Linked DNA regions of Homo sapiens. The protein of the gene in region 2 purifies or fractionates together with the protein of the main gene of each other region. This does not show direct contact. Each region holds a gene or a part of one and is shown on either strand. Other genes may lie near its edges.

What was found.
Region 1: the proteins of OR6B1 (region 2) and KIAA1549 purify together in Homo sapiens (affinity purification with mass spectrometry; one large-scale study listed by BioGRID and IntAct). This does not show direct contact.

Annotation. Positions count from the first base shown.
Region 1 is NC_000007.14:138,834,890-138,838,389, forward strand, and holds part of KIAA1549 (UPF0606 protein KIAA1549), read right to left. Parts: intron 3,272-3,500; coding exon 3,017-3,271; 3' UTR 1-3,016. UniProt on the Homo sapiens protein: May play a role in photoreceptor function.
Region 2 is NC_000007.14:144,006,307-144,009,293, reverse strand, and holds the end of OR6B1 (olfactory receptor 6B1), read right to left. Parts: 3' UTR 501-2,987; downstream 1-500. UniProt on the Homo sapiens protein: Odorant receptor.

The DNA.
Region 1 (3,500 bases), 5.2 Mb from region 2:
GGTCTGTTCTTGTTTGGCTTATGGGGAGAATGAAGTTCAGAGAAGGAACCAGACATGGTCAGTGAGTGACAAAGTAGTCTCTGAAAAAAAAAAAAACAACATTTCTCCAAACATTCTGACTCAAATTTACAGTTTGTGTTACCACTAGAACTTTTAAAATAGGAAAAAAGAATAGACATAAAATTCAACTGTTCATTGTAGAGTGCTTCCATAAACGGACTCCAAAGCCACACGCTGTCAACGCAAGGACCCTTCCTTTCAGTGGATGACGTGAACTTAATGTCTGAAGACCGCTAGGGTACGGTGCTGCTCACACAGCTAGTTTTTTCTGAGTTTGGTGACTGGCAAAACTGTTGTGGCAGGCGTCGAGAGGAAGCAAGTACAAACTGTGTGTGCTTTATGACCACCAGCAGAGGGCTGGTGATCCGGGGGCCTGCTCACACCACACCATAACCACCGGCTGTTTATTATACATCATCTTTGGTCTTGACATCTGTTTAAAGGTGTATTGTTTCTAAGAATAAAAATACAGTTAAAATCCCTTTATGGTAGTTTGAAAGACATCAAAATTGCTTTTACGGTCAGCCCAATTTGAAACAGAACCCTCTTTCTGCAATGCTCAAAGGAGGTTACCATTTTTAGCACACTCTATGTGCAAGCCTGTATGGCCCTGAGCGGAACTGGGTGAGAAGGGGCCATTTATCCCGTTTGCTGTCACACGATTTGAATTCATTACAAGGTGTCCATAATAAAATTCTGCTTGGATATCTGAAATTCTTAATAACATATTCAGGAAACCTGGTATTTTTGAGTGACATACAAAGATAATCGTTCAATTTGGGAGGAGTCGGGTATTAAACCAAGACCAAGAGAAATTTGGTATTAAACCAAAACCAAGACATCAAGCCCAGAAAGGGGCATTCTCTCCAATGCTCCTTGGAGCCTCTGAGGATCGCCTGATAAGATGCTGCTGGTCCTTTGTTGAACGTCCTTGAGAGACTTACTCTCCTGCACTCCTTCTCTTTCAGAGGTGCCCAGATGAAAACTGGCTACATCTTACCTTCCCAGAACCAACTTCCCTCATATTGTAAGACTCTAAATCTGTACAACAGGCTTCATTAATGAAGGGCTAAAACATGGTTTTGAAATCCAGTGATTACACTTTGGAAACCTGTTTTAGCTGTTTCAGGGGTCTTAAAACTTGACACAGATACACAGGTTTTGATCAGTCAGAGCCCCAAATTCTATAGCCCCTTATCTGTTATTTAATGAAAAGTACAGTCATGCACACATCAGGATGTTTTGGTCAATGACGGTCTACATATTGATGGTAGTCCCATAAGATTATAAAATTGTATTTTTACCATACCTTTTCTATGTTTAGCTATGTTTAGATACACAAATACTTACCATTGTGTTCAGTACAGTAACATGCTGTACAGGTTTGTAGCCTAAGAGGAATAGGCCATGCCACACAGCCCAGGTGTGTAGTAGGCTATACCATGTAGGTTGTGTAAGTACAATCTAGGATGTTGGCACAGCAACAAAACAGCCTAATGACACATTTCTCAGAATGCATCCCCATCATTAAGCGATGCATGACTGTCTTCGCTGATCTAATAAAAACAGGTTAATAGTGAAAATCTCTTAGCTAAGCCTGCTTTTCTTCTGAGTTTCACTCAGGTACCAGAAAACAGAACAGCCCTTGCCACTGTTTTCTTTACCATTATTTGGAAAGTGGGGGAAATGTTTACATCAGGAGTACATCTTAAGCGAGATGATCCCCTCTTAGCCCAAAGAGCATAAGACAATTTTAATAGCCACTCGACAGAGTAACAGCACAATAAAATCAGAAATGAGAAGCAACTCTCTCCTTTCCCTTGGGGTCTCAAAGCTCTTTTACATTTCTTGATTCATTACAGAGAGGCTGAACTGAACTCAATTTCATTTCCAGGCTCTGAACACAGGGAATGTGACTGGTAGGGATGTATGTATAACAATTTCGTGGTGCTGGGAATTATTAAATAACTTCTGCTTACAGAAGATTTCTCATTCAGACATAATTTGTGAACAAATCAACAGCAAAGTGGAAGAAAGGATCAGTTAGGACCTCTTGAAAGCCGCATTCTACAGGATCGGCCTTAGCGATCGGTGCTGAACTGGGACATGACCAGGAGTTGTGTGTGCCCAATTAAGAAACAGCAAATACAATGAAGAATGTAGATCTAAACTTTGATCTGTATTTTGGATAATCAAATAAATATAAAGCTTTTTGCCCCACTTTGGGAGGGATTTTTTTTTTCTAGAACAAAATGAAACCTTCAACATATTCTTCCACTGAAAAAGCCAAAGTTCCATTTCAGACATGAAGGTGAAGGGCCCTTGGAGCTGTAGCACCAGAAGAAGGAGGAAGAATGCGGGTGATGGCTTTGTTTGGAGTCATCAGGCTCTACAACCTATCATTTGGTTTCTCACTAGTAGCTTTTTAAAATTCCCAAACAGTCTTAGTATTCTTGTTGTTAATGTTACTATTAAAATAAGTTCCTATGGAGTAAAAGAGAAAAATTAAGCTGTTAATAAAATGTCTTCAAACCTCTTCTCAGAAAACAAAGCAGCAGGTTCATCGTACACGTACCAGTCTCAATCCCACAGAAACGCTTGGTTCCTTTCATCCCTATGCTGTCTATACAGTTTAATCTCTACCTTTAAAAAAGAGACGAATGCAGTCATTTTGTTAGCTTAGGTTTGTGTTTTGTTTTTGTGAAGTGCTGCTGGCTTTTGGCCAAAATACATATATTTCAACTGAACCCAAGTGTTCAGACAATTGCCAGCCCAGTGAAAGGCTCATGAGCTGTCACACGACGTATGGCATCTTCTAAATTGCAACTTGCTCCCTCCCTTGGGCAGGCTGCCCGAGAGTTGCTCCTTCCTCTTCCAAACACCCACTCAGTTGATTTCCTTTTGGTCTTGCTTCCACAGGAAGCGGATACTTGGCAAATCTGCGAGGCGAGGCCGATCAGCTGTGGAAGTTCTGCACGGTGCTCTGTTTCTGGGAGAGCCGGAGGAGCTCCTCGCGGATTGCTTTGATGAGAGAGGCCGAGGAGTGGCCAGGCTGGAGGTCTTCCGTGGAGCTGGTGGGGTAACCCAGCCCAGGGCCCTGCAGTCCCCGGTGGGGGAGGTTCCCGGAAGGAGCTGAGGGCTCCCTGCCTGAAGTCCTTGGCACCTGAAATAGCGGTGAAGAAGAATACTCTTGATGTCCGAGCATGTGTGTCTGAAAAACATGGCAAACGTCACTGTACTTCCTACGAAGAATAAGCCGAAACATCAAATGCAAACTGGCTTTAGGAAGGTTCCCAGGACTGCCCACGTCCATCCACCAACTCAGCCCTCTAACAGGGCCCTGCTGCCTATGCTGCAGGTGAGGCGTGAAGACACCAGGGGGCTGGGGAGAACAGAAGGGAGGGAGGCTGGAGTGCCCCATGATGTGAAAGGTCGGGTGA
Region 2 (2,987 bases):
ATCATCACTTTATGAAAGCATATGACTATATGCTTTCAGAAAAAGCCAGGTTGCATCTTGAATGCTTTGCTGCTTAGAAATTTCTTCTGCCAGGTACCAGAAAATTATCTCTCCCAAGTTTAAAGTTCCACAGGTCTCTAGAGCAGGGGCAAAATGCTGCCAATCTCTTTGCTAAAGCATAGGAAGAGTGACCTTTGCTCTAGTTCCCAAGAAATTCCTTATCTCCACCTGAGACCACCTCAGCCTGGACTTCATTGTCTGTATCACTATCAGCATTTTGGTCAAAACCATTCAACAAGTCTCTAGAAAGTTCCAAACTTTTCCACATCTTCCTGTGTTTTTCTGAGCCCTCCAAGCTGTTCCAACCTCTGCCCATTACCCAGTTCCAAAGTTGCTTCCACATTTTTAGGTATCTTTATAGCAGTGCCCCACTCCTGGTATGAATTTTCTGTATTAGTTCATTTTCACACAACTATAAAGAACTACCCAAGACTGGGTAATTTACTTTAAAAACGTTTAATTGACTTACAGTTCCACATGGTTGGGGAGGCCTCAGGAAACTTACAATCATGGCAGGAGGCGAAGGGGAAGGAAGGCACATCTAACATGGCGGCAAGAGAGAGAGAGAGAAAGTGGGAGGGGAACTGCCAAACACTTTTAAAACCATCGGATCTTGTGAGAACTCACTCACTATCATGAGAACAGCATGGGGGAACCACCCCCATGATGCAATCACTTCCCACCAGGTTCCCCTTTTGATATGTGGGGATTACAATCAAGATGAGATTTGGGTAGGGAAACAGAGCCAGACCATATCACCTGCTTACCCTTTTCTCACTGCTCTGGCTGCTCAGTCTCTTCAATGTCCCTCAAACATACTACACAAGACTCCATATCTTCCCTTGCTGTTTCTCTACCTGGAATGTTCTTTGCCAAAGTAGCCATATATCTTACTCTCACAGCTTCTCCAGGTTTTTGCTCAAACATTTCTTCCTCACTTGGTGATTCTGTGACCATCTTATTTAAAATTTCTCATCTCCAGCAGCACTTCCTATTATACTTTCATGCTTTCTTCCTCCCCATCCATAGCACTTATTGCCACCCAAATTGGGATGTGTATTTATTTCCCAGGGTTTTTATAACAAATTACCACAAACTTGGTAGCTTAAAACAACAGAAATATATTGTCTTATAGTTCTGGAGGCCAGGAGTCCAAAATCAAGCTGTCATCAGGGCTCTCTTCCTTTGACAGCTCTAGGGGGGGAGAATCATTACTTATATCTTCCAGCTTCTGGTGGCCCAAGGTATTTCTTGGCTTGTGGATGCAGAACTCCAATCTCTATCTCTACCTTCACATCACCTTCTCTGTTTTCTCTTCTCTCTCATATAAGGAACTTGTCATTGGACATTGAGTCCACTCGGATAATCCAGAATGGTCTCAGTTTGAGGTCCTTAACTTTATTATATTTCAAAGACTCTTTTTTTTTCAAATAAGTTCCCAATCACAAGTTCCAGGTTGAAAGTGTGAAAATATATTTTTGGGAGCCACCATTCAACCCATTACAATATGTATGTATGTTAGATATATATATGTATACACACACACACACACACACACAAAGGTATTATCTGCTATCTGTTTCTGCTCACAAAGGTAACAAGTTTTAATATTTTGCTATTGTATCCCTACACGTACATAATAGATCTTTAATATATATTAGTTAAATGAATGAATAAATATAGTGATTTAAAATATATACTGCATGTGTAATTAATATATATTTATATTTTATTTTGTGGGGTTCCTTATGAGTTTGGATGGTGATAATCAAATCTTCAGGGCATGTTCTCTGGATAAACTACTGAAACTGACTACCAGCCTTTTATGATGGTTACCCCAACAAGATCACCAAATGCCCTGAAACTTCCGGCTTGCTTTGTGTGTCACCTTAGAAATAGCTTGTTTCTATGTGAATTTAACCAGTAATCCACTATACATTATTTTCTCTGTTGAGGCAGATTTCTACATTGGTCTGTGTCCTTACTTTGCTGAGCCTGTGCACTTAGGTATTCCTTCCACAAAGGGGAAGGAGCTCAATGTTCCATCTGTTATTTGAAAAAAAAATTTAATAGAATTCCCCAAGAAACCCTACTTCTACATTCTCCCTTTCCAAGATATTCATGAGAAATAATAAAGAAATAAACTGCCTCTGATAGTTGTAGCCTCCCAGGTTAACTATAACTATAGTATGTGGAGTCAACTAGGTGTGGAATTGTTTTAGACAGGTCCAGAGAGCATAGCCTTCCCAAACAGTTTTCCCATGCAAACCCTAATCTAGTGGCAGCTTGCTTAGATCATGCACTGCCCAAGATATTTAACAATCAATGTCTTTTCCATCATGGTAGTTGATCCTCATAACCATTGCGTAAGAAACACCAAGCAACTATTATTACTCCTGTTTTACACATAAAGACTCAGTGTTTCCAAAAGTATAGATGGTTTGGCCAAGGTCACATGGTGAATATATATCCAGGGCTAAAATTCAAGTTATTGCCAGAGTTTTTTTATCTTTCATTTCCTAATCCCTACTGAACATGTCTTTTCCTTTCTTAATGCACACATTTAATATCCCTATATGACTATGCAATTATATTTTGATTCATTTGAAGTTTTCAGAAAATAATCTCTTTTTTGTGTGTCTAGATTTTAAATAGAAATATATTCATCACAACTTACTTGTTGCATCAAGGGACCAAACTACATTCCAGAAGCAAACATTAAATCCTTTCCATTTTAAGCATTGTTCTCTTTTGCACATTTATTCCCTAAAGCAAGTTGTGCTTGCATTTTATTTTTGTTTCTTTTTTCCTCTGGGACCTATAATTCACATGTTTTCATTTTTATTTTATTACTGTTCTGCAGGTATAGTAATTCATAATTCCAACTATATTCCTTTACAACTAGCTTTCATACTTGGCTTCTAAAG